Linked DNA regions of Homo sapiens. The protein of the gene in region 2 purifies or fractionates together with the protein of the main gene of each other region. This does not show direct contact. Each region holds a gene or a part of one and is shown on either strand. Other genes may lie near its edges.

What was found.
Region 1: the proteins of TAF7L (region 2) and TAF8 purify together in Homo sapiens (affinity purification with mass spectrometry; 2 studies listed by BioGRID and IntAct, with this or other methods). This does not show direct contact.
Region 3: the proteins of TAF7L (region 2) and UTP6 purify together in Homo sapiens (affinity purification with mass spectrometry; 2 studies listed by BioGRID and IntAct, with this or other methods). This does not show direct contact.
Region 4: the proteins of TAF7L (region 2) and TAF3 purify together in Homo sapiens (co-immunoprecipitation; 3 studies listed by BioGRID and IntAct, with this or other methods). This does not show direct contact.

What each region holds. Positions count from the first base shown.
Region 1 is NC_000006.12:42,074,491-42,081,525, forward strand, and holds part of TAF8 (transcription initiation factor TFIID subunit 8), read left to right. Parts: intron 1-2,609; coding exon 2,610-2,749; intron 2,750-3,042; coding exon 3,043-3,055; 3' UTR 3,056-5,245; coding exon of another isoform or gene 5,246-5,285; 3' UTR 5,286-7,035. UniProt on the Homo sapiens protein: The TFIID basal transcription factor complex plays a major role in the initiation of RNA polymerase II (Pol II)-dependent transcription.
Region 2 is NC_000023.11:101,281,330-101,288,364, reverse strand, and holds part of TAF7L (transcription initiation factor TFIID subunit 7-like), read left to right. Parts: intron 1-819; coding exon of another isoform or gene 820-821; coding exon 822-887; intron 888-1,711; coding exon 1,712-1,790; intron 1,791-4,781; coding exon 4,782-4,915; intron 4,916-5,911; coding exon 5,912-6,038; intron 6,039-6,589; coding exon 6,590-6,645; intron 6,646-7,035. UniProt on the Homo sapiens protein: Probably functions as a spermatogenesis-specific component of the DNA-binding general transcription factor complex TFIID, a multimeric protein complex that plays a central role in mediating promoter responses to various activators and repressors.
Region 3 is NC_000017.11:31,898,681-31,905,980, reverse strand, and holds the start of UTP6 (U3 small nucleolar RNA-associated protein 6 homolog), read left to right. Parts: upstream 1-4,272; 5' UTR 4,273-4,353; coding exon 4,354-4,445; intron 4,446-6,250; coding exon 6,251-6,335; intron 6,336-7,300. UniProt on the Homo sapiens protein: Part of the small subunit (SSU) processome, first precursor of the small eukaryotic ribosomal subunit.
Region 4 is NC_000010.11:8,010,505-8,017,131, forward strand, and holds the end of TAF3 (transcription initiation factor TFIID subunit 3), read left to right. Parts: intron 1-3,226; coding exon 3,227-3,333; intron 3,334-4,132; coding exon 4,133-4,247; 3' UTR 4,248-6,127; downstream 6,128-6,627. UniProt on the Homo sapiens protein: The TFIID basal transcription factor complex plays a major role in the initiation of RNA polymerase II (Pol II)-dependent transcription.

The DNA.
Region 1 (7,035 bases), on a different chromosome or scaffold from region 2:
CTGCTCCCACTTTTTTTTACAAATCTCTGGGTCAGTTTGACACTTTACTTTTTTGTTTTTTTGAGACAGAGTCCCACTCTGTCGTCTAGGCTGGAGTGCAGTGGCACAATCTCGGCTCACTGCAACCTCCAACTCCCGGGTTCAAGCGACTGTCTTGCCTCAGCCTCCCAAGTAGCTGGGATTATAGGCGCCTACCACCATGCCCGGCTGATTTTTTTGTATTTTTAGTAGAGGCAGGGTTTCACCATGTTGGCCAGGCTGATCTCGAACTCTTCACCTCAGGTGATCCACCTGCCTTGGCCTCCCAAAGTGCTAGATTACAGGCGTGAGCCACCACGCCTGGCCTACTTTTTTTTTTTTTTTTTTAACTGGCTGACTTCCCCACCCCTAACCATCTCAGTGCTGCCTGTCCCTGAAGGGGACATTTCTATGAGGCCTGCTTGGGAGAAGGAAGCCTGCCGTCCTGCTCTTGTGAGCCACGGTGGGCCGAATGGAGGGAGCCTCTTGACCCTCCAGCAGTGTCTTGAGGCTGGCGTTTTCAGCACCTCTAACAGTGTTACCTCCATGTGTATCTCAGAAAACATTGAAGGCACGGTTGAAGTGAGCTTCCAGTAACTTTGAAGATAGGCTGTCTACTGTAGAGAAATGATAGGATGGACGGAGCGAGGAGATACTACTCATTTGTACCATTAGGAACTTCAGAAAGGTTGGATGCCAGATACCCAAGGGAGGTCTGGTTGTGGGCAGACCTTTTTTCCGGCACCTGGTCTGGCCTGAACTAGGTTGGTCCTGCAGCACTTGCTTTCAAGAGTCTCTGGAAGGCCCCAGTGGCTCTGGGTCACCTTGTGGTCCCACTGGATTGGGTGCTGGAGAGGGAAAACACACAGGCCCTGATACTGGGCCAATGGAACTGTGTCTTTGAAGAGAACAATTGATAGGACAGGGAGAGGGCACGCAGGGGAACCTAGATGTGATCTGGTTTCTTCTGGCTCATTAAACCTGAGACTGGTGTCCATGCCCTAGGCCAGCTGTCCTGTCAGGGGAACCTGCTATTTATTTCATGCCATCCGGTCATGGCATCCTCTGTCTGTTTTGACAGCAGCCTCTCCTGCTTGAGGTCAGTGAGGGCCTCTTTAGCCTCAAGTTGCAGAACAGGAATCTCAATGACTTCTTCCCCGTGGAAGAACTTCTTCCCCTTGGCCCATCACCAGGGGGCGCAGCCCGACCAAACGTGGAAAATAAAGGAGGCTGTGAATAAAGACAGGATAACTGACTGCTCATACTTCCAGAACAGTTTTTAAAATGTCAGCATATTACCTTTTTTTCTGTGTCTATACACAACTGTGACTTTTTAAGAATTTTGATCATACTGATTACATGTGAACTTACAAACTTTTCTGAAAAAACACATTTTTCTCAAAAAATGAACAGTAAAGCGGCCGGGCGCGGTGGCTCACGCCTGTAATCCCAGCACTTTGGGAAGCCAAGGCTGGCAGATCATGAGGTCAGGAGATCGAGACCATCCTGGCTAACATGGTGAAACCCCGTCTCTACTAAAAATAAAAAACTTAGCGGGATGTGGTGGCAGGCACCTGTACTCCCAGCTACTTGGGAGGCTGAGGCAGGAGAATCTCTTGAACCCAGAGGCGGAGCTTGCAGTGAGCTGAGATCACACCACTGCACTCCAGCCTGGGTAACAGAAGAAGACTCCATCTCAAAAAAAAAAAATGAACAGTAAAAAACCCTGCCTCGGAGTTCGAGACTAGCCTGGCCAACTGGTAAAACCCCGTCTCTACTAAAAATACAAAAATTAGCCGGGCGTCATGGCACATGCCTGAAATCCCAGCTACTTGGGAGGCTGAAGCAGGAGAATTGCTTGAACCCCGGAGACGGAGGCTGCAGTGAGCCGAGATCACGCCACTGCACTCCAGCCTGGGTGACACAGGGAGACTCCATCTCAAACAGGCAAACAAACAAACCCTGCCTCATAGGTTGCAGATAGGCATTACCAATGATGTGCATGTGCTGGTACCTGCTGGCTCTGCGTCCCTTAGTGGAACCCTCAAGGCTCAAGAAGTTTCTAGCCTGTGCTGGGATGTGATTGTTGGTACCATGTTGCAAGTACCAGAAATGTGAGGATTTGAGGGAGAAATCTGTTCTGACTTAGTCTATCTAGCTTGGCCAGGAGATGCGCTATGCAGATGATGTGTTCTGATCCTGTATCTCCCAGTCATGCAGGGCATCCAGGATCACTTTTCTTCTTCATCTCCCCACCTGGCCGGGCATCCTCCCTGAGGCATCTGAATTTGATTCCTGTCCCTCCCAGGTGTCTGTTCTTTCTAACCCCTGTCCCTGCCTTCTCCAGAGGTTCAAAACTCTGGACTCTGTTGTGTGCTCTCTTGGGTCAAGGCTGTTAGTCTTGCCTTCCCTTCATAGCCAGCCCCTGCCTGGTCCTCGCTTCATCGGGGCAGAGATAGGAATGTTGGAAAGAAGGTGCTTCCCAGGTTCTAATTTCTCAATTAGAGGATGCTAATGGTCATTCCAATTATAGGCATGATCTCTTTCCTTATGCTGTTGATGTTGTGCTTTATTTTGGCTTTTGCTCAAAGGAGGATTCTGGAGCCGAGAAGGAGAACACCTCTGTCCTGCAGCAGAACCCCTCCTTGTCGGGTAGCCGGAATGGGGAGGAGAACATCATCGATAACCCTTATCTGCGGCCGGTGAAGAAGCCCAAGATCCGCAGGAAGAAGTGAGTTGGAGGCTGGGGTCCAGAGAGCCTTCACTGTCCCACCGAGGTGGTCTTCTCTGCTTCTTGGAAGAGTCTCCTCAGTGGGGCGGAGCCTTGGGGAAAGCCACTCTGGTGAGAGGGAATAGTCTCCCTTTTCCTGTCCTTACTTGGCTCCCGTACATAGCTCTTGTTCCTTAGTGGTTGAGTGTCCTGCAGTCTAGGGACCAACCCTCACAGCACTGGAGCAGTTTTCCCCTAGAAGGAGAGCAGACAGGGCCCACACCAGGAGGCTCCATGGTTCCTCTTCTTTCTAGGTCCCTCTCCTGAGCTGAGAAGGAAACCTGGCTTGTACAGGGGCGCAGATTCCACCCTCCCGGGGAGTTAAAGCCACTCAAGGGAAGAAGAGGGTGACCTCCTCATGGCCAAGCCGAGGCTGCAGGGTGTGATCGGACATGATTTTCATGGCAAACCGTCTTATTAAGATGACCTATTTTCACTGGATGTTTGGGTTGAGGAAGATATGAACAGAATAATGAGAATTTTTTTTTTTATTTTGAGATGGAGTCTTACTCTATCACCCAGGCTGGAATGCAGTGGTGTGATCTCAGCTCACTGCAGTCTCAGCAACCCTGGGTCCAAGTGATTCTCCTGCCTTGGCCTCCCGAGTAGCTGGGACTAGAGGCAAGCGCCACCATGCTGGCTAATTTTTGTATTTTGAGTAGAGATAGGGTTTCGCCATGTTGGCCAGGCTGGTCTTGAACTCCTGACCTCAAGTGATCCACCCGCATTGGCCTCCCAAAGAGTTGCGATTACAGGTGTGAGCCACCACGCCCAGCTAATTTTTGTATTTTTAATAGAGATAAGGTTTCGCCATGTTGGCCAGGCTGGTCTTGAACTCCTGACCTCAAGTGATAACCCGCCTCGGCCTCCCAAAGTGCTGAGATTACAGGCGTGAGCCACCGCACCCCACCAGAGACTTTCTTAATCAATCAGGCTATGTGGTGGGGCATAGCAGCAGCCAGTGACTTCGTTCATTATCACAGGATTTGATTCCTTTGAAACTCAAGAGACCAGGGAAAGTGACAGGAAGGAAAGGGCTCTTTGCTGCTGTGCTTATTACAAGGAAGACTGTTTGTCCAGCGTGTATTTCAGGATATCTGGATCCCTTTTATTGACTCACAATTTGTGGCACCACTTTCTCATCCCAGAACTTCATTCTTATTTCTCTCCTCATCTGGCCTCCCAAGTGCTCCGTTGAGCTGATGAAAAGTTCTTTGTACTCCCTCAACGTGTCGGAAACAGGAGGCCACACAGCACAGCTTTGTTTGGGGTGGGCAGGAGTCAGGAGTCTTGAGCAGATGCATCACTGTGAAGAAGAACGACATGTCGGGGCTGCACCTGTCCTCCCGTCGGCATTTGACGAAAGCTCCCTGAAGCGGGGCAGCACTCTCCTCCTGAGAGATTTACCATTTATTGCCCCTGTGAGGAATGTGTGCTTGGGAACTGCCAAGTCTTACCCCTTCTGGAAGAAGAGGTTTTCTCTGACAAGAGCCTAGAGCGTCGGCTCTATTATGCTGGGACTTGACAGAGGAGCCATGGGGTTTAAACAGTAGGAAAGAGGGGCTACGCGCAGTGGCTCACGCCTGTAATCCCAGCACTTCGGGAGGCGAAGGCAGGTGGATCACTTGAGGTCAGGAGTTCGAGACCAGCCTGGCCAACATAGTGAAACCCCGTCTCTACTAAAAATACAAAAATTAGCCGGGTGTGGTTACTCATGCCTGTAATCCCAGCTACTCGGGAGGCTGAGGCAGGAGAATCACTTGAACCTGGGAGGCGGAGGTTGCAGTGAGCCGAGATCGTGCCACTGCACTCCAGCCTGGGTGACAGAGCGAGACTCCATTTCAAAAAAATAAAAAAAGGATAAAGTAAACAATAGGAAAGGATTTGGTGGGGTGAGGGTGGGGTGTTGAGGGCTGGGCCTCATCTTGTATTCTGAAAGCTGAGAAACGGCTGGTCAGCTGGAAGGCTGGTGGATGGGCAGGAGTGAGCCAAGCTGAGGCGTTCTGCAAGAAGCAGGTCTGAGTCTGTCCAACCAATTTGTATCCTGTGGGGAGAACAACTTCATTCTTAACATACCCTACAAACCAGAAAACAAGTTTTTAAGGAAGATGCTGGGCATGCTGATAGCTTTTCTGGTCTCCTAAGGAAGAGTTTTTAAAACTAAATCCAAGGAAGAAAAATGTAACAACACGTGGAAGTGAACACTGGATGAATAAGCTTGTTTCCCAAATTAGAATCCTAACGTCCATATTTAGCTTCATGTATTCCCCTTTGGCTTCCACAGTTCAACTCCTTTTATTTTGAGACAGGGTCTCGCTGTGTCGCCCCAGCTGGAGTATAGTGGCACTACCTCGGCTCACTGCAACCTCCACTCCCCGGGTTCAAGCAATTCTCAGAGTAGCTGGGATTACAGATGCCCGCCACCACATCTGGCTAATTTTTTTTTTTTTTTTTTAGTAGACACGGGATTTTGCTATGTTGCCCAGGCTGGTCTTGAACTCCTGGCCTCAAGTGATCCACCCGCCTTGGCCTTCCAAAGTGTTGAGATTACAGGCGTGAGCCACGGTGCCCAGCCCATCTCTTAGTCTTCCATTCCCTTGGTGAATTTGGAAACTTGAAAAACTTGGGGACTTGACAGCAGGCTCCATGTTCTTCTGGCCTCACTGTACTGTGTAAGGAAAGAGCTGCTTGTCAGGAACGGAAGAGGGGACGCTAGTAAAAAAAAAAAAATTGGATTCCCCAACTGGACTAAATAGGAGTTTTTCAGGTTTGTAGTAACGTGAAACTCTCCTAGATCGAAGCAGTTAGACTGGCCTATGTGGCCTTCTCAGGGTTTGTGATTCAGTTCTTAGCGATTCTTGGCCTGATAAGTTTATGAACACAGCCCCACATTCAAGCCGTGGCCAATCCCAGCTGTTCTCACTGCTCTTGGGAGGTGTTGTCCCAGTCAGTGTTTCTGCAGCTTCCATTTGTTGTTGTTATCCAGTGTAAGCACCTGTTGAATGCAGATGTGCTGAGTTAGAGGTGGGATTTGGAAAAGGGCTGCTATTTCTGCTGTTGAGATTTCAGAGGCTATACTCTTTTTTTTTCTTTTCTTTTTTTTTTTTTTTTGAGACGGCATCTCACTCTTATCGCCCAGGCTGGAGTGCAATGGCGTGATCTCGGCTCACTGCAACCTCCACCTCCTGGGTTCAAGGGATTCTCCTGCCTCAGCCTCCTGAGTAGCTGGGATTACAGGCACCTACCACAATTCTCGGCTAATTTTTTTTGTATTTTTGGTAGAGACGGGGTTTCACCAGGTTGGCCAGGGTGGTCTCGAACACCTGACCTCAGATGATCCACCCACCTCGGCCTCCCAGTGTGGGTGGGATTACAGGCATGAGCCACCGCGCCTGGCCTCAGAGGCTATACTCTTATAATTTTGTTCTGAGGGGAGACAGGGAAAGGGTTAGACAACTTGAAACATTGACCCTGTATAAAAATGCAAAATTCTCAATGTGTATTTATAAATTTCTATTTTTTATAACTTTATGGGACTTCTTAGAGGCCAAAAGTAGTAAACATGCAGATTAAAAATGTTTATGAAAATCTCAATAAAAATTCATAATAAAAACTTTGTAAATAAATAGAACTGTAAGCTTTGAACTTAATTTGTGTTCAAAAGTTAACAGCAATGTGGACAAATAAGTCAGGCTTAGCCCTTGTGTTGGCCTAAGCACACCTGGGAACTTAGTAAAACTTTTATTTTGGAAATTTTCAAATACAAAATTAGAGAGCAAAATATATGAACCCCTGTATATGCCTCATCAAGCTTCCACACTTGTCAGTAGCTTGTTGATTCTGTTTCATCTGTTTCTCCCACTTTTTGTCCTTTATTTTCTTTCCTCCTGGAGTGTGTGTGTGTGTGTGTGTGCGTGTGTGTGCGTGTGAGACAGAGTTTCGCGCTGGAGTGCAATGGTGCAATCTTGGCCCACTGCAACTTCTGCCTCCCGGGTTCAAATGATTCTACTGCCTCAGCTTCCTGAGTAGCTGGGATTATAGGTATCTACCACCACCACCACGCCTGGCTAATTTTTTCTTTTTTTTTTGGAGACGGAGTCTCGCTCTGTCGCCCAGGCTGGATTGCAGTGGATTGTCAAGATTGCAGTGGTGCAATCTCAGCTCACCGCAAGCTCCGCCACCCAGGTTCACGCCATTCTCCTGCCTCAGCCTCCCAAGTAGCTGGGACTACAGGTGCCTGCTACCAC
Region 2 (7,035 bases):
TTAAGACCAGCCTAGCCGACATGGTGAAATCCTGTCTCTACTAAAAAATACAAAAATTAGCCAGGTGTGGTGGTGCATGCCTGTAGTCCCAACTACTTGGGAGACTGAGGCAGGAGAATGGCTTGAACCTGGGAGGCGGAGGTTGCAGTGAGCCGAGATCGCACCACTGCACTCCAGCCTGGGCGACAGAGCGAGACTCTGTCTTGAAAAAAAAAAAAAAGAACTGGACTCCTAACTTTTCCCCAGGGTAGCTCAAAGCTGTTGTTGCTGGCTCTAGAGTCATAAAAAACTGCCTGGTCTCCCATGGACTGCTTAATTTCTACTAATCCATTAATGTAGGTGAAATATTGAAAATCAAGCCCTTGTTTACTTCAAATCATCACAGAACATTTATGCAAGTGGTTTCTAGGCGAATTTCAGCTTTTGGTTTGCATTCTTCCCTACAGAGGTTAGTTTGCTTAGGTAGCCACCAACGTGTTGTTGAATTGTAGTCTTTTACCTGAGAGTCTAAGAATATGATTAAGAAGACGAAATCATGTTTCATAACAGCTCTTATTTCATTTGTTCATCAAATTACATCATGTAATTTGGATTGACTTTGGAAAATCTACACATATTGGAGAGGAGCTAAGGTAACGTCTAGAAATAATTAAGTTATGTCAAATAAGGTATTGTCTAACTGTACACACATCATTCTAGTGAGGATTATGGGCAAGATCTTGTATAATTTAGCCAGTACTACCAGAAGTGGTCAGGAGAGGGAGCAAGAGGAGTTTTTAGTGATGGTTTTCTTTTTGCTTTCATGAACTCAAAATCAAGACATGAGTGAAAGCCAGGATGAAGTTCCTGATGAAGTTGAGAACCAGTTTATATTGCGTCTGCCTCTGGTAAGAACTTGTATCTCAGAACAAATATCTTCATAATTATAGTTTAATTATAATTATAGTTCTACTTGGATTCTGACATTTCTATTTCAGGTAGGCTATAAAAACTCAGAACATTTGTTTCCCAGGAATCATGTTCTGTTAAGCAGTCCTATCATAGCGTGTACTTTTTTGGCAGCATTTTTTCCTCCTGTACAATACCACCTATCATGCAGGTTGATTTCCTGGCAAAACAGCTGTGACAATGATGGACCCATTCACTTACCACCAATACTAACAGCCTGTTCCCTGGACAGCCAAGATACGGCTCCTCTGAAATCCTTTCTGTCACCTCAAAAGGGGCAGTGAGAAGGGCCAGCATTATTCACCACCATGCAAGACTTTTAAAGCTCATCTCAACAAGTATTTGGCTCTCTTCCCCCACACTGATACCTGTATTCAAGCAATTACTTAGTCTAGGCAGCTATATTAAGGATGGGGTTCAGAAACCTATTTCCCTAATTAGGGTTACTTAATATACCAAGCAAACTGCAACTAGGTAAGCCTTTCTTTAGCAACTACAACAGAAGGGTAGCAGTGAGAGGCAGGATTGTAGAGCTAGGAGAAAGCATTAACTGTAGCTACTAAGAGACAATTATGAGTTTAGAGTCAGCTTCATCCTAACTTGACTTATACAGTGCACAGTATCTCATGGTACATGGTCTTGTTAGTAACATTTGGGAGGTGTAAAGTTTTATTTAAGGGAGGGCTTTCTTTGATATATCTATTCTGTTAGCTGCCAAGTAGATGTTTAGTTCTTCTGATTTTTCAATTTACCTCCTTTTTAGGAACATGCTTGTACTGTCAGGAACCTAGCACGTTCTCAAAGTGTCAAGATGAAGGATAAACTAAAAATTGACTTATTGCGTAAGTAGTTAATATCCATTCACTATACATTGAACAATAATTTATTAAGGGATTGCTATGTGCCATACACTGTACTTGGTACTAAGGATGTGAAAAATGATAGAATATGGTCTCTGACTTGATGGACTCATGCTTTAGAGAGGCTTAAGTCCTCTTCTTTTAAGAGGAAAGGAAGTAGGAATATTGCACCTTGAGTTGAGTGATTATCATAGTGTGTTTAAGGAAACTTGGGGGTCAACTGTGGGGTTTTTATACTGCTGGTAGCCTCCCATATATAAACTTTATGATTTCTGAACATCCAAGGGAATGACAAATGGATATGCCATTCTTTGTTTATAAAGGTGACATGTATTTCTTTCTTTCTTTCTTTCTTTCTTTCTTTTTTTTTTTTTTTGAGATGGAGTCTCGCTCTGTCGCCCAGGCTGGAGTGCAGTGGCGCAATCTTGGTTCACTGCAACCTCTACCTCCTGGGTTCAAGTGATTCTTCTGCCTCAGCCTCCCAAGTAGCTGGGATTACAGGCACATGCCACCATGCCCGGCTAAGTTTTGTATTTTTAGTAGAGACGTGGTTTCACCATGTTGGTCAGGCTAGTCTCAAACTCCTGACCTTGTGATCCGCCTGCCTTGGCCTCCCAAAGTGCTGGGATTACAGGCGTGAGCCACCGTGCCTGGCCAGTGACATATATTTTTCTTTTAAATAATATTTGTTATATTGGCAAATTGTACATCCAATAAAGTGGTTAATATCCAAATATATAAGGAACTCAAACAACTCAATAGCAAGAAAACAAATAACCTGATTTTAAAATGGGCAAAGGATCTGAACAGATATTTCTCAAAAGAAGACATACAAGTAGCCAAAAGGTTCATGAAAAAATGCTCAGCATCACTAATCATTAGGGGAATGCAAATTAAAACAACAGCGAGATATCACCTCATACCTGTTAGAATGGCTTTTATTAAAAAAAAAAAAAGAACAATAACAACTGTTAATGAGGATGAGGAGAAAAGGGAAACTTTGTACCCTATTGGTGGTAATGTAAATTAATACAGCCTTTTTTTTTTTTTTTTTTTTTTGAGATGGAGTCTTGCTGTGTCACCCAGGCTGGAGTGCAGTGGCGCGATCTTGGCTCACTGGAACCTCCACCTCCTGGGTTCAAGCAATTCTCCTGCCTCAGCCTTCCGAGTAGCTGGGACTACAGGCATGCGCCACCACACCTGGCTAATTTTTTTGTATTTTTGGTAGAGATGGGGTTTCACCATGTTGACCAGGCTGGTCTTGAACTCCTGACCTCGAGTGATCCACCCACCTCAGCCTCCCAAAGTGCTGGGATTACAGGCGTGAGCTACTGTGCCTGGCCTACAGCCATTATTTTTTTTAAATGGTATGGAGGTTCCTCAGAAAACTAAAAATAGAACAACCATGTGATCCAGCAACCCCACTTCTGTGAATATATTCACAGAAGGAATTGATATCAACATGTTGAAGGCATATCTCTCTGCACTCCCATATTCATTGTAGCATTATTCACAATAGCCAAGATATGGAATCAACCTAAGTGTAAATGTGATACGTATACACAATGCTATACTACTCAGCCTTTTAAAAAGAACAAAATTCTGTCATTTGGGACACCATGGATGAATCTAGAGGCCATTTGCACCAAGAGCATGTGTAAATAAATAAGTAAATAAGTAAATAAATAAATAAATGTTTCCACACAAGTTTATCTGCCTAAAAAACACACAACCAAAAATAAATAAATTTTGCTAGTTTTTTTTTTTAATACAGAGAAGCATATAAAGGAGAAAACAAAAAGTGGCTCATAATCTCACCAGTTAGTTAACACTTACTGACATTTTTTAAAAAAGATAATATAAGTTCATAGTTAGAAAATTCAAATAAAACAGGCTGGGTGTGATGGCTCATGCCTGTAATCCCAGCTCTTTGGGAGGCTGAGGCGGGCGGATCACTTGAGGTCAGGAGTTCCAGACCAGCCTGGCCAACATGGCGAAACCCCGTCTCTACTAAAAATGCAAAAATTAGCCGGGCATGGTGGTGCACACCTGTAATCCTAGCTATTTGGGAGGCTGAGGCATGATAATTGCTTGAACCCAGGGGGCGGAGATTGCAGTGAGCAGAGATTATGCCACTGCACTCCAGCCTGGGTGACAGAGTGAGACTCCTTCTCAAAGAAAAATAAAAAAATCAAATGAAAAAGAAAAGTTCGAAAGGAGAAATAAAACTCTTCTTCCTTATGGTGCCCCAACCTCAATACCACAGATAACTGATACTGTTTCTTGTTACTTCCTTATTGACAAAACTCTTATGCATAATACTAGAATTGAAGCAATCTCTCTATTTTTAGAGTTAATTCACACAAAATGATAAACATTGTTTTGTATCTTTCTTTTTTCACATAATACTAGAAGATTATACCTGAATCCTCTTGTGTCAAAAGACATTTATGTTTGGGACATCTGAGCAGCAATATTCAGAGTTTAGTATATGGCTGTTGTATAGAATTTTATCTTTATGAAGCTAATTAGAGATTTAACTTGAGATTTATTAGCACCATTCTAGGGTCAGTCAACCCTTCCCTCACCCAGCCCTTTGAAAACACACATGTACAATGACACGATTGAATGCTTCTAAAAAAAAAAAAAAAGGAATTGGTTTTAATGAATGGAATTTGCTTTTCAGGATGAGAATGAAACATTTATTACTTCACCTATATTTAGTTCACATCCATTAACAAGAAACTTAGCTACTTTTGCACAAGTGACGTAAACTAGGAAAAAAGAGCTCCATATACTTTCCATTTCTTTTCTTTAGGAAGCTATTAATTGTGTACACAATTCTAGCATTATGAGAGATAGTAGGTTTCTTGGAAAGACTAATCTGTCCCACATAAGTCTTCATTATTCAAACCTTAGGAAGTTTAAGAGTTCACTGGGAAGATATCAACTTTAATCTTTACTTCTCTTCAGCTGATGGGCGCCATGCAGTTGTTGAAGTAGAAGATGTCCCACTAGCTGCTAAGCTGGTTGACTTGCCTTGTGTTATTGAAAGCCTGAGAACGCTTGATAAAAAAACCTTTTATAAAACAGCAGACATTTCTCAGGTATGGACTAGTTTTCTTTACTAGCCTCACATCCTTCAAGGAATTCTTTTCTCTTCCTATTTTTCTTTCTTTCAGTACTCCTTTCCACTTGGTGAATGGCTGCTTGGCATTTCTAATTTCCAGATTGACTGCACAGGAATGAAATGTCATGTTCTCGTTTGGTGTTTGATCCTTAGCTTTCAGTATTGTATTTTGACCAAATAGCCTATAGAGAGTCCCATTTGCCACTTATAGTGACTTTTCATTAATTGAAACATATGAGCTGCTGGGATCTTCTGAACTTTGTATTAAAACAGTATGTTGTTAACTCTGGAGGTTTAAATTGGTTCTTATTCATCATCTCTGCTGTTGATTTCTTATTTCCTCTCTAAATCAAAATGCTGAGATAGGCCAGACACAATGGCTCATGCCTATAATCCCTACACTTTGGGAGGCTGAGGTGGGAGGATCACCTGAGCCCAGGAGTTTGAGACCAACCTGGGCAACATAGTGAGACCTCATCTCTACAAAAACAAGATTAGCCAGGTGTGGTGGCACACACCTGTAGTCCCAGCTATTCTAGAGATTGAGGTGGGAGGATCACTTGAGCCCAGGAGGTCGAGGGTGCAGTGAGCCATGATCACGTACCACTGCACTCCAGCCTGTATGACAGAGCAAGACTTTGTCTAAAAACAAAACAAAAAACCTAAGCTAAGTTCCAAGATCTGTTTCCAATATATTCCCTCTGTAGTGGTAAACACTCTCGTGGAAAAAAAAAAACAAAACAAAGCACCTTCAGAGTTCATATGTAGTGCTGCTGGTGGCTGGTGGTGGGGAGGAGAGGGAGAGAGAGAGACTGCAAAAATGAGAGAATATAAATGTACATTACAAAATACTTGGTTTTCTGGAAATGGCAAGTATCAGTCTCTTCTGTGCATTTCTAGTGGTAAGAATGATTATGATTGCTAACCCAAAATTCGTGGTCATAGTCAACTTCTTTGTCTTTGTTAAATGTAGATGCTTGTGTGCACTGCTGATGGTGATATCCACCTTTCTCCAGAAGAACCAGCTGCCTCTACTGATCCTAATATAGTCAGGAAAAAAGAAAGGGGGAGAGAAGAAAAATGTGTCTGGAAGCATGGCAGTAAGTCACCAGCCCCTTGCTCATTCCTGCTGACTAAAATTTATTTGCTGAATCCTAATTCCTTGTGAAACAGGGACGTCTTACCACACTTAGGTGTTTGGTTCATTAGGTTCTCAGATACTCTTTAAGAGGAGTCACGTCAGCTGGGCGCGGTGGCTCACGCTTGTAATCCCAGCACTTTGGGAGGCCGAGGCGGGTGGATCACCTGAGGTCAGGAGTTCGAGACCAGCTTGGCCAACATGGTGAAACTCTGTCTTTACTAAAAATACAAAAATTAGTTGGGTGTGGTGGCGGGCACCTGTAATCCCAGCTACTCGGGAGGCTGAGGCAGGAGAATCGCTTGAACCTAGGAGGAGGTGGTTGCAGTAAGCTGAGCTCGCACCACTGCACTCCAGCCTGGGCAACAGAGTGGGACTCGATCTCAAAAAAAAAAAAAAAAAAGGAGTGATGTCATGACCCTTTGGTTTATAGCATGATCTTTGTCTTTATCAAATTCAGCTATGTGACTACCATCAGTCATATAACGTTTCACTGTGTTGTATTTATTTTAGTTACGCCACCACTTAAGAATGTCAGAAAGAAAAGGTTCCGGAAAACACAAAAAAAGGTTAGTTACATGCTATTTGTGTGTCTGCCGGGCCGATTAGAAGAGGATCATGGGCCAGAAGAAAAGAGAAAAAGTCAGTTGGGAATTAATTTTTAATTCATTTATATGTTCAATAAACATTTATTGAATGTGAACTAAATGCCAGGCACTGTATGCTAGCAGTAGGGAATATAGCAGTGAATAAAAAGACCTGATCCTTGAGGTTATAGGCTAGTCATTTGGGGTCTGGAAGAATCATACATTTGAAACTTCTGTTAATGCTTTCAGTTTTCTATTGCAAGATCTAGTTTTAAAGTGAACCCATCCAGAACCTGAAAATTGGGAATTGTGGTTATATTCCTAATGTTATTTCAGGCTTGTAGAATCTTGGGCAAACTACAGGAGTATTGT
Region 3 (7,300 bases), on a different chromosome or scaffold from region 2:
TCACAAAAAAAAAAACAAAAAAACATAAAGGACTTAGAACAGTGCACATAGTAGCTGGGCACACAATAAGCCCTACATAATGACAGCTTTTTTTTTTTTTTTTGAGACAGAGTCATGGGGTTTCACCATGCTGGCCATGCTGGTCTTGAACTTCTGACATTGTGATCTGCCAACCTTGGCCTCCCAAAGTGCTGGGATTACAGGCGTGAGCCACTGCGCCGGGCCAATGACAGCTATTATTATGAGATGCAGAAGTGAAAAGAAGGCTTTGTCATTTCTGTCATAATAATTCTTTTTTTTTTTGAGACAGATTCTCATTCTGTTGCCCAGGCTGGAGTGTAGTGGCACGATCTCGACTCACTGCAGTCTCTGCCTCCCGGGTTCAAGCGATTCTTGTGCTTTAGCCTCCCAAGTATTTTTTTTTTTTTTTGAGACGGAGTCTCGCTCTGTCTCCCAGGCTGGAGTGTAGTGGTGTGATCATGGCTCACTACAACTTCCGCCACCCAGGTTCTAGCAATTTTCCTGCCTCAGCCTCCAGAGTAGCTGGGATTCCCGCCACCATGTCTAGCTAATTTTTGTATTTTTAGTGGGGGGGTATTTCACCATGTTGGCCATGCTGGTTGTGAACTCCTGACCTCAGGTGATCCACCTGCCTTGGCCTCCAAAACATCATAATAATTCTTTCTTTTTTGGGACAGAGTGTCGGTCTGTCACCCAGGCTGGAGTGCAGTGGCGTGATCTTGGCTCACTGCAACCTCCATCTCCCGGGTTCAAGCGATTCTCCTGCCTCAGCCTCCCGAGTAGCTGGGACTACAGGCACGCACCACCATGCCCGGCTAATTTTTGTATTTTTGGTAGAGACGGAGGTTTCACCATGTTGGCCAGGCTGGTCTCGAACTCCTGACCTTGTGATCCACCCACCTCGGCCTCCCAAAGTGCTGGGATTACAGATGTGAGCCACTGCGCCTGGCCCATCATAATAATTCTTGAAGGTAAATATAAAAGCTAGGCAGGGCGGGGTGGCTCACATCCCAGCACTTTGGGAGGTGGAGGCGGGTGGATCGATCACAAGGTCAGGAGTTCCAGACCAGCCTGGCCAACATGGTGAAACCCCGTCTCTACCAAAAATACAAAAATTAGCTGGGCGTGGTGGCGTGCGCCTGTAGTCCCAGCTACTCAGGTGGCTGAGGCAGGAGAATCGTTTAAACGGGAAGGCGGGGGTTGCAGTGAGCCGAGATCATGCCACTGCCCTCCAGCCTGGGCAACAAACTGACACTCCGTCTCAACAACAACAACAACAACAACAACAAGAATATATACATAAACGCTAAATTTTGGCCAGGCGTGGTGGCTCATGCCTGTAATCCCAGCACTTTGGGAGGCCGAGGTGGGCGGATCACCTGAGGTTAGGAGTTCGAGACCAGCTTAGCCAACATAGTGAAACTCCGTCTCTACTAAAAAGACAATAATTAGCTGGTCGTGGTGGTGGGCGCCTGTAATCCCAGCTACTCGGGAGGCTGAGGCAGGAGAATCACTAGAATCTGGGAGGCTGAGGTTGCAGTGAGCCAAGATCACGCCACTACACTCCAGCCTGGGCAACAAGAGCAAAACTCCATCTCAAAAAAAAAAAAGCTAAATTTCAAAATAAGGGAGGATCGCTGGGCGTGCTGGCTTATGCCTGTAATCCCAGAATTTTGAGAAGGGGAAACAAGATGATCACTTGAGGCCAGGAGTTCAAGACCATGGTGACAATACAGTGAGACCCTGTCTCTATTTACAAAAACAAAAACACCATCCTCGGCAACATAGTGAGACCCCTGTCTCTACAAAAAAGAAAAAAGGAAAATTAGCCAGGTGCGGTGGGGCACACATGTAGTCCCAGCTACTTGGGAGGCGGGGGTGGGAGCATTGCTGGAGCTCAGGAGGTTGAGGCTGCAGTGAGCTGTGGTCACACCACTGCACTCCAGCCTGGGTAATATAGTAAGACCCTGTCTCAAAACAAAACAAAAACGTAATTAGGCCGGGCATGGTGGCTCACGCCTGTCATCCCAGCTACTCGGGGGATCGCTTGAACCCAGGAGGTGGAGGTTGCAGTGAGCCGAGAGCGCACCACTGCACTCCCCATTAGGCAACAGAGAGAGGCCACCAGGCCCAGCTAATTTTTTTGTATTTTTAGTGGAGACGGGGTTTCTCCATGTTGGCCACGCTGGTCTTGAATTCCTGACCTCAGGTTATCCGTGGCCTCGGCCTCCCAAAGTGCTGTGATGACAGGTGTGAGCCACAGTGCCTGGCCAGCGAGGCTCGGTCTTAAAAAGAACAACAAAACAAAACAAAACAATATAAAGGAGGAGCGTATTTATAGTTAGTTTGATTTAAAAATTGGGCGGGCGCGTTGGCTCACGCCTGGAGTCCCAGCACTTTGGGATGCTGAGGCGGGTGGATCATGAGGTCAGGAGATTGAGACCATCCTGGCCAACATGATGAAAACCTGTATGTACGAAAAACACAAAAATTAATTGGGTGTGGTGGCACGTGCCTGTAGTCCCAGCTACTCGGGCGGCTGAGGCAGGAGAATCCTTTGAACCAGGGGAGTCGAGGTTGTGGTGAGCCGAGATCGCGCCACTGCACTCCAGCCTGGTGACAGAGCGAGACTCTGTCTCTAAATAAATAAATAAAATAAAATAAAATAAAAATCATGGTTAATTTATGAAGGTCTCTATCAAATTTACTTTGAAATGATTACAGTCTGTCATAACTTGCTGACTTCCTTGTACCTAAAGAAATTTAGCAAGTACCTTTTCTTAGTGTCATGCATTTATTAACTGAGTACTTATTATATGGTAGGCACTGCTATAAGCTGTAGAGTATCTAGCCAGTCAAAAAGGAAAAAATTCCCTGCCCATATGGAGTTTACTATCTAGTGTCATCTCCACTCTTACTGTTAACACAGCCCCAGAGATTTTACTTTTACAAATAAATTCTATCTTTGTCTTACATTCGTGATTTCCTTCCACTTCTGACATGTCTTACAGCTGAAGGATTCAAGAAATGGTGTAGCACAAGCCAACCCTCGTCTCAGTTCTGAGATGAGTGGGTAAAATGTGAAAGGAAAGAAAGAAATGCAAGGCACAGAGGTGGAACATGGTTTTGCTGAGCCCATTCTCCTTTCATAAATCACACACAGGATCCAGGTGCTAATGTGAATGTTGAAATAAGCAGATTTAGCAAGAACTGCTGCTTTGGCTTTTTTATATCCAGAACTAAAAAAGAACTGAACCATGTAGTTATCATTTGAGGTTTACTAACTATACCAGCAATATTGCCTCCAAGCTGTGTTGCCTGGTGTTTCTCTTAGAAATGCTAAGTTGCTTGGGCAATGGTTTAAGGAGGGTGTCTATACCTTAGTGATTTATTTTGGTAATTCTCAAACTTTTCAATACAAAAATCTCCTTTTCTAAAAAGAATTTATAGTGTCTGATATTCACCTAGGGACATATATTTTGAAAGCTATTGCTTACAAAGACAGGATATTGATTTAAATAATAAACAATTCTATTTTATTTATTTATTTATTTAGAGACGGAGTTTCACTCTTGTTGCCCAAGCTGGAGTGCAATGGCGCGATCTCGGCCTCCCAGGTTCAAGCGATTCTCCTGCCTCAGCCTCCCGAGTAGCTGGGATTACAGGCGCGTGCCAGCACGCCCAGTTAATTTTTTTGCATTTTTAGTAGAAACGGGGTTTCATCATGTTAGCCAGGATGGTCTCGAACTCCTGACTTCAGGTGATCTGCCCGCCTCGGCCTCCTAAACTGCTGGGATTACAGGCATGAGCCACCGCGACCGGCTTTCAAAAATGTTTAATTGTACAATATCCTCCTCCTTTGCTTTTTTTTTTGTTGTTGTTCTTGGTGTTGGGAAGTCAGGACGTGGGATGGGAGACAATATTCTGAAGAAAATGCATCTCGTGTCCCTTTCAGGCTTGAGCAGCCCACCTCTCTACACCTGGAGGCGCTTTTCCTGATGGCTGTCCAAGTCTAGCGGCGCGCGCACTTAACCCCTCCCTCCCGTCTAGCCCCGCCCCTCAACTCCTGTCCGCTAGAGTCGTCCTGCCCAAGACCAGGGCGGGTTCTCGCTGCAATCCCACAATCGGCCACAGGGAGGGGACGGTGGCTGTAGAAGCCGAAGGGCCTTCCCCTAAGTAGGAGGTGGCGGAAGCGGAAAAGGCGGGACCTAGGGAGCACGTTACGTCCGGACGCGTCGGTGGTAGGGCTGGGTCTCCGAACCTGAAACCGGGAGCTTCCTGCTCGTGTTCGCTGTTGAGAAGCTACCCGCGGGGTTGTAGACCTCGGACCTCATGGCAGAGATAATTCAGGAACGCATAGAAGATCGGCTCCCGGAATTGGAACAGCTGGAGCGCATTGGACTGTTCAGTCATGCGGAGATTAAGTGAGAGAGGGTTGGGGAGAGGGAAGAGCTGAGGCGGCCTGAGGGGAGGTTGGGAGTGTGTGGCAGGGGCTAGATGTGGGGACGCTCGACCTGTGTTTACTTTTCCTAACGTGGTGGAAGCCCATTTCTCGTTTTCGGTGATGTCCAGAATTAATTTTTCATTCGTTGCAAGGTAATCCGTCCGTCTACTTACCCATCAGACGTTTTGACAGCCCTTCATGGAGCCGGGTCTTAGGGCTGTAAAGGTGATAAACCCAGGATTCCTGCTCATTAGGAGCTAATTGGGCAGAGTGTGGTGGGGGAGACAGACAAATTAAATATTTTGATAACAGTGTACTGTAAGTTGATTGTAGTACCTTGTACTGCTGTAGGGATGGGAACAGAGTGCTGTGAGAGCCCAGGGGGAGTGGATAAATTCCTAACTAGACTTGAAGGTGGGGACCATTGAAATCAGTTTCATATGCTACTCCAGAGCCTAACTACAGCGCCTGGCACATGGTAGACATTCAGTAGCGTGTTAAAATTATGTTTAATAGTTTTTAATGGTTTCTGTGACTGTTGCTTTGTTTTGCAACGTCTGAATGTAGTAATGTGACTCAGAGCTTCAAAGTAAGCATTCGTTAATGAAACACAAAACAAAGCAGTGTGGACGCTTAGAAAGTGCTCAGTTAAGGTTAATGTTACCATTACTAAAGACACCTGTCTTGCACATCTTGCATTAAATTCTCCTAATATATATTTGTCATATGTTCATTCCTTAGCTAAGGACTCTGAATCTTCTCCCGTAAGTCCTTCGTAGTAATAAGTCTTTTAAGGCAGACGCAATTTAGATTTTTAAAAAAATTTACATGTTGAGAACTCAGAAATAAGAGGAATTTCGGAAAGAAATTTATTATTAAAATTTAAGTGACCTGAACTTGGAGTAAAAGAAGTCTTTATTAATACCAGCCAGGCGCTGTGGCTCACGCCTGTAATCCCAGCACTTTGGGAGGCCGAGGTGGGTGGATCACGAGGTCAGGAGTTCGAGACCAGCCTGGCCAATATGGTGAAACCCCGTCTCTACTAAAAATACAAAAATTAGCTGAGCGTGGTGGTGAGCGCCTGTAGTCCCAGCTACTCGGGAGTCTGAGGCAGGAGAATCGCTTGAACTCGGGAGGCCGAGGTTGTAGTGAGCCAAGATCATGCCACTGCACTCCAGCCTGGGCGACAGAGCGAGAAAAAAACAAACAAAAAAAACACCATACATAAATGGTATAAAGTTCTTAATTGTATTTGCTTTGCTGGTGGGAATGTCATTGGTTTTGGGAGTTGATTAAGATGATTTTCCTGAAAGTTTAAAAATGAACCCTTAAGAACACAAAAGTAATTGTGTAAGAGAATACTTTTTTTTTTTGAGATGGAGTCTTGCTCTGTCGCCAGGCCAGAGGGCAGTGGCGCGATCTCGGCTTACTGCAACCTCCGCCTTCCAGGTTCAAGCAATTTTCCTGCCTCAGTCTCCCGAGTAGCTGGGACTACAGGCACGCACCACCACGCCCAGCTAATTTTTGTATTTTTAGTAGAGATGCAGTTTTACCATGTTGACCAGGGTGGTCTCAGTCTCTTGACCTCTTGATCTACCCGCCTCAGCCTCCCAAAGTGCTGGGATTCCAGGCATGAGCCACTGTGTCCGGCCGATAATACTTTCTTATGAAAGATAACTCTAGGAATTTCGTATTTTGAAAAACATGTTTTAAATATATTCAAAATAAACTTAAACGTTTAATTTTTGCAGTTTTCAAGTGAAGTTTAAATGGCTTTCTCCTCAGGGCTATCATTAAGAAGGCTTCCGATCTAGAGTACAAAATCCAGAGAAGAACCCTTTTCAAGGAAGACTTTATCAATTATGTTCAAGTAAGTGTGTAATTAATAATTTCTTTCTTTTTTTCTTTTTTGTTTTTTGGTGAGATGGCATCTCACTCTGTCACCCAGGTTGGAGTGCAGTGGTGTGAATGGTGTGATCTCTGCTCACTGCAACCTCTGCCCTCCAGGCTCAAGCGATTCTCCTACCTCAGCCTCCTGGGTAGCTGGGACCATAGATGCATGCCACCATGCCTGGCTAATTTTTTGGTAGAGACTGGGTTTTGCCACATTGCCCAGGCTGATCTCAAGGGATCCACCCACCTTGGCCTCTCAAAGTGCTGGGCTTACAGGTGTGAACCACAGTGCCCGGCCAATAATTAATAATTTCATTACTTTTTTTTGAGGCAGGGGCTCGCCTTTCACCCAGGCTGAAGTGCAGTGGTGCCATCATGGCTCAGTGTAGCTTCCACCTCCTGAGCTGAAGCCATCCTCCCACCTCAGCCTCTGGAGTAGCTGGGACTACAGGTGTGTGCCAGTATGGCTGGCTAGCTTTTGTGTTTTTTGTAGAGACAGGGTTTCGGCATGTTGCCCACGCCCAAAATGCTGGGATTACAAGTGTTTGTGAGCCACCGGGCCCAGCCTTACTTTTTTTATTTTTGTTTTTGAGACAAGAGTCTTGCTCTGTCACCCAGGCTGGAGTGCAGTGGCGCGATCTTGGCTCACTGCAACCACTGCCTTCCGGGTTCTAGTGATTCTCAAGTCTCATCCTCCTCAGTAACTGGGATTACAGGCGTATGGCACCGCACCCAGCTACTTTTAGTAGAGACTGGGTTTTGCCATGTTGGCTAGGCTGGTCTCGAACTCCTGGCCTCAAGCAATCCACCAGCATCGGCCTCCCAAAGCGAGTGCTATGATTACAGGCATGAGGCATCATGCTCGGTCCTAGCCTTACTTTTTAATCCCTTCACAAATTGATTGATTGGTTGATTAATTGAAATAGAGTCTCTCTGTGTCAC
Region 4 (6,627 bases), on a different chromosome or scaffold from region 2:
CACTAATTATATTTTATTGGCTATGATCCAGAATATGCCAGGGCTTGCATATTAAATGGAAATGAACTTTGAGACCACAGAACTCCTGAGTATCCAAGCATGATTTCAAATTGTAAAACCAGCTGGACGCAGTGGCTTACGCCTGTAATCCCAGCACTTTGGGAGGCTGAGGCAGATGGATCACTTGAGGTCAGGAGTTCGAGACCAGCCTGGCCAACATGGTGAAACCCCATCTCTACTAAAAATACAAACAAAATTAGCTGGGCATGGTGGCACGTGCCTGTAATCCCAGCTACTCGGGAGGCTCAGGCACAAGAATTGCTTGAACGGGAGGCAGAGCTTGCAGTGAGCCAAGATCGTACCACTGCTCTCTAGCCTGAGGGACAAGAGCGAAACTCCATCTCAAGAAAAAAAAAAATTGTAAATCCCACCATGTCCACTGAGTCCACATTGTTCTGGGACTGTTTTTTAGTTTCTTACTCCCTGAATACACTCTGGCAGTAAAGTGTTTATACAGATTACGTTCTTTGGATACTATAGAATTAAACACACAAACACACAACGAAATATTTAAGGTGTGTGGAGCCATTGCCATTGCTGTGACTACCAACTCTGCAGACTGTGATGTGTTAGCCTACTGGTGGCCCTGACCTTGTAACTAGCTAGGTACTAATATGATTGGAAAGTGGCTGGGTAGGACTCATGGTATTTGTTGTTATAAACTGTACAATATTACATTTCTTTTTTTTATGTTTTCTTTTTTTCTTTTGAGGTAGTCTCACTCTTCTTGTCCATACTGGAATGCAGTGGCACAATACCACTCACTGCAGCCTCGACCTCCTGGGCCCCAGTGATCCCCTCACCTCAGCCTCCCGAGTAGCTGGGACCACAGGCGTCTGCCACCACAACTGGCTGTTTCTTGGCTGTTTTTGTTTGTTTGTTTTTGGTTTTTGTGGAGATGATGTCTCTCTGTGTTGCCCAGGCTGGTCTCAAACTCCTGGGCTCAAGCAGTCCTTCCACCTTGGCCTCCCAAAGTGCTGGGATTACAGGCATGAGCAACCACGCCTGGCCTATTATTAAATTTCCTTAAAGGAGTTTTGGAAGGAACTTCTAAAAGTGTGATCATCAAATTGGTCCATTCGGGGACCAATCATTGTAGGTGTTTAATTAGAGGCAACATCACCCCCAAATGGGTTGATCAGGAAAGATTTTGTACTTAACCTCCTTGACCTTCGTGTCTTCATCTGTAATTAAGGAGTTTGTGTTAAACTTGGTAATCTCTGTGGCATGTTCTAGCTCTAAAAGTTCTGGTTTTCCAGTAGATCTTTGAGCTAACTCACTTCCTGGAGATGAGTCCAACTGGAATAGACAATGTAGATGGAAAGCTTACTGGCTGTGCATGGTGTCTCACGCCTATAATCCCAGCACTTTGGGAGGCCAAGGCAGCTGTATCACATGAGCCCAGGAGTTGAGACTAGTCTGGGCAACATAGTGAGACCCCATCTCTGCAGAAAATACAAAAATTGGCTGGGCAGGGTGACATGTGCCTGTAGTCTCAACTACTCAGGAGGCTGAGCTGGGAAGATCACCTGAGCCTACCGAGGTCAAGGCTACAGTGAGCCATGATCACACCACTGCACTCCAGCCTGGGTGACAGAGTGAAACCCTGTCTTTAAAATAAAAATGAAAATTTAAAAAAAGCTTTCTACCTCATGAAGAGAGACGCTTTGTGGTTAGAGGACAAAATTTATGATTTAGATGACATACAAAGGCTAGAGAGCAAAAAGGCAAATTTTGTCACTGCCTAATGGTGTGATGTTGGAAATGCCACTTAAATTCCCTTAGCTCCGGTTTCCCCATTCATAAGCTACCCAGAGGTTGTTTTACAGGGATTAAATGAAATGAGATGTTTAGAAGAATTTAGTAAGCTATGAGGTATTTGGTATTAGTTGCTGTGGATGCCGTGGTGAAGTTCTTGTGCGGCACACAGAGTCACGGCCTTCTGACTTCAAGCAAGGTCAGCCAGCAGCAGGACTGGCCACACGTGGGAGCTTCAGGGCATAGGATGTTCCACCAGCCTTGGCCTCTAGACAGCAGGTACGGGTGACTGCTGGTTCTCACCCCTTGTTACTTTTTCTCCTGGAATTACGGAGGGTCAGAGATGTAGTTGCCCACAGATTTCTTTAGGAAGTTTTCCTGTCAATGTAGTTTGCCTTTGTAGAGTTGCCTTAAAGGAAGCCCATCACTACAGTGAAACATATATGGACCCCCAATGCACCTGTCACACACAAAGAAAGCCTTTCTAAAAGCATGTCTAGTCAGTGTGGTATTTGAAAGTCTGGGAAGAACTATCCCTTACAAAATAAACCGGATGCAATAATGTGCTCTGTTATTGTAAACACTTTGGAAGTTACCTTTTTCTTATTGCTGGTGTTGAATGCCCATCAGTGAATTAATTCTTCCAGGTTGGCTCTGTTCATGTGAAGTTTGAGGAAGTGGTGAATAGGATGTTCCCTCTTTAGAACTGCTAAGTTAAATAAAGTCAACTCTAGAGTACACAATATTTGTAGCAAAATAATGTTGAACCTTGTAGCTCTGTGGCCTCCCTATCCCCTTATTTCATTTGCCCTTTAGTTGATTGTACTTTACTAAAAATGTCATAAAGGGAATGGAAAGTTACTTAGTAACAACTCTTTTATATCCTTGATCTTATCAGCTCCTTCAGGAGAAGGGCTTGGCTAATAAGTAATAAGGTGGTGCATGCACATTTGGCTGTCTATATTAATTCCATGCCTATGAATGCGATTGAGAAAACCACATATAAAGTGGAGCTCTATAACTTTCAAAAAATCAGTTGTTACCACCCTTATAAAGACCCAAATCATTAAGAATTTACATAGTTATAGTTTTTTTTTTTATGAAAGGGGTTACAGGTCATATTGTTCACAGAGATGATTATAAAATGCTTTTTATGACTTACAAAAGAAAGCTTAGAATATTCGTTAGAAATGCCTTATCATTGAACACTTAGCGTTTTTCTGTTTCTTGATTCTAAAACAGTGATGACGCTGATCATGGCATTAATGAAGTGCTGATCTACTATATTTTTTAGTTTAATATGCCTGTTTATTCGGTTAACAGTATAAAGTAATCATTCTGATCTGGCCTCTTTTTGTTTTTTTTCCCATTCCCTCCATTTTTGCCGCTTCCGCTTTGCAAACATCAGATCCGAGATGAGTGGGGCAATCAGATCTGGATCTGCCCTGGGTGTAACAAGCCTGACGATGGGAGTCCCATGATTGGGTGTGACGACTGCGATGACTGGTACCACTGGTGAGTGCCCAGGGCGCCCTGCCGGCCACACTCATTAGGCAGCATCAGCCGCTCCTGAGATGAAGCATCCACTGAGTAGATTCCTGCCTTTGGACTGACCCAGGGCTGTCCTAGGGACAGTACATGGAGTCAAATCACTGAGCCTGTGAAGTGCAATTAACTGCAAAACCCAAGAGTGCTTAGACTATTGTTATTCACCCTAAATTCTGAATATTCTGCTTAGCTTATCTATCCTTCTTATTAAAAATAATAATACTAAAAGGAGATCCAGGGGCTTCCCTGGCCTTCCTTTCCAGTAATGTTCTGTAGGAGCTGTAGCACTGGCCAGGACCACGAAGAGGCAGCGCCTTTGTAAAGGTGGTACAAACTGCAGGACTAAAGACTGCTTATCTGTTTTTTAGACCTCTTCAGCGGTTCCTAAAAACTGAAAAGCTCAACCAGAATTTATGCAGATAATCTCGTGTTATCTTTAAAATGTCAGATACAAAAAAGATAGCAACCTGTTCAGTTATGATAGACGATATCTGTGAGATAAAGACAAAGCCGTGGCTCGGAAGACTTCTATTCCTGGCTGAGAGGATGAATGAACGGATGAGTCTCTGCAGGGGGCCTGTAAAGGGAGCATCTGTGATCTCATAGTCCGCATGCCCAACAATAGTGCTACACACAAGTTAGTGCTGCTTGACTTTGATTTCGGGTAAACATGTCATAGACTCTAAAAAATTACTTTAAAACATGGAAGGGAGAAGAATAGATGTCTGTATAAAAGTTGCTTATCTGAGCTTGTTTTCACGTGCAGGCCCTGTGTTGGAATCATGACTGCACCCCCAGAAGAGATGCAGTGGTTCTGCCCCAAGTGTGCGAACAAGAAGAAGGACAAAAAGCACAAGAAGAGGAAGCATCGAGCCCACTGACGACTCCCGAGGGGCTGGACCAAGCGGGGTCAGCCCGGGCTTCTTCCCTGGCGCCTCTGGAAGGGAGCTGGTGCAAGTCTGCCGTCACATCCACCCCCAGATGCCTGTGGATAAAGAACCCAGGAGGACTGAGGCTGGAACACACCGCGCACCTGGATTGTTCACTCCCGAGCCGCCTTGGCCTGTGGCTCCGTGGCAGTGCGACAGAAGGAAACTCAAGCAGAGGCGTGGCCTGGGGGCTGCCCCTCCTCCACTTCTCTAATACCAGTGACAAGTATTATTAATAAAGAGCGTACATCTTCCCTTTTGATTTCCTTTATTCTCTCCAGGGCCTTTTCATTGAGGTATTAGATGAGAAGATAATGTACAAACTGCCTCAACTGTAATTTAAGGATGATAGAGTCTGTATACAGTTTTCAGCCCCTTTCCCTCTATAGTAAGATAATCAGAATAACATAAAAGAAAACTCCAGTTGGAGTACCGGTAAATATTTTTGTGATAAGAATATATGAAGCTTCCCTCCTTCCCCCGTTTTTAGTACTAACATGTAAAATGTTCAGGCTTTTGTGAAATACCTTATATTTTTTAAGAAAAAGGTTTCTATCATGTCCTGTTTGCTTTTGTGCAAATTATTTTTGTTTAATGTATTTTATATCTTCGTTGCATTCTAATTTTGCCCTTCTTTAAACTGCTGGAGTCTCTTCTCACTGCTTGTACATTTCATCAACTTGTATAAAAACTCTTCAGACTAAAAGATTGCCCCTAATGTAAATAATAAATATTTATGAAGTAGTTATTTTTTAAATTTTTATCGTGTTTAATTCTGGCTTTCTCTGAAATCCACTGTGATTTCAGCCAGGTCTGTAATGACGCTGGACAGAAACAAGGCTAGAGAAAAAGCCATCGTTCAAAGAAATTTCCCTTGAGCTCAGCCTGCGCAGTGCCCGGAAACATGGTGGGGAAAGGGCCCGAGCAGTTGGAAGGAAAACAAGGCAATTTAAATTTAGAGTTTATGACTTGAAGTTGTTTTGTTTGTTGTCTATTTTGTTTTTGTAAATTTCTTTGACAGACTTTTACTAAAAGGACATGTAGTTTCCATGAAAGTAAAAAAAAAAAACAACAAAAAACCCACATATACTGTAGCATTTTGTCTTTATATTGTTTTATTTCTACAAATCTGTTCATTAATATTGTGCTTTAAGGCTGAAATGAAGTATATTATGAATTTTTTTAAGAAAACTCATCAAATTTCAGGGTATCACAAAACTTTATTATATTATTATACTGCCCACTATTTATTATATGTTATAGATGTCTGAGAGGTAAACCAAATATTTTATTTTTAATGTTAAAAAAACATCAAATTTAACTTTATTAGCATATTTTAGCAACTTTGGGATAAATACGGACTTTTACTTGATTTTGAAATAATCCCAGTGTAGGCCCATGTGCTGGATCTGTTGGATGCTAGAATATGGGCTTTGAACCTAATACAAATATATTACTAGAAAATGTGATTTTTTTAAATGCCAAGTAAATTGATATTAGTGTATGAATTAGTCATATTTTAAAACATTATGTGGTTAGAGAAATGCGGTTTTCTGCCATGAATGTTAAGTTGCAAATCAGTGGAAATGGAGTCGACCTCTTCGGAGCACAGGGTGTCATTGCCCTCGTTGTTCAAGAGGCCAGAATTTTTCTATCCCCGCTAAGAAACAAAGCATCTATGTTGAGATATGTGTTTTTTTGTTTGATTAATTTGAGATCATTCTAAATACTTTATACAATATTTTCACATGCACAAAAATGCGCGTTAGTGGTTTTTGGAGAGGGGTGAGGGGTGGGGGAAGTGCAAAATAAAGATTATTGGCTATTTCATAGTTTGCTTTTCCATTTTCTTTATTTAGGATTTAGTTCCTTGAGGCGTGGTCCATGATCTGAAGTTGCCACGTTTAAGTGAGCAGGTCACGCTACTGAAATCAGAATGGAGGTGCCTATATATAACTTTCCCCCCAATCTTACTGTCTGAGAGACTTCAGCCCATGCTACATTTAAGGAATTTCAATCAGTTTGTTGTCCCTTGCTATTTCATGGTTGCTTTCCTAAATCCAGTTCATGATTTTATAAATGGTCTTTGCAATAATAAAACCAAAGAATCATTTTCAGGGGGCTGGAGAGCTCGAGGGATTAGTAATGGAATACAGAGCCTTTCACCTCTAGGTCAGTGAGTCGGATCCAGTCCAGGTCACTAGAGACCAAAAGTTGTCACCATCTTATGACTGTTCAGTGGCCTGTGTGAAATGAACTGGTGGTCTCAGTCTCTACTGGGTGGCTGGCTGTGACACCAACCAAAGGAAGTTCAAGAAACTGCAAAGAGAAA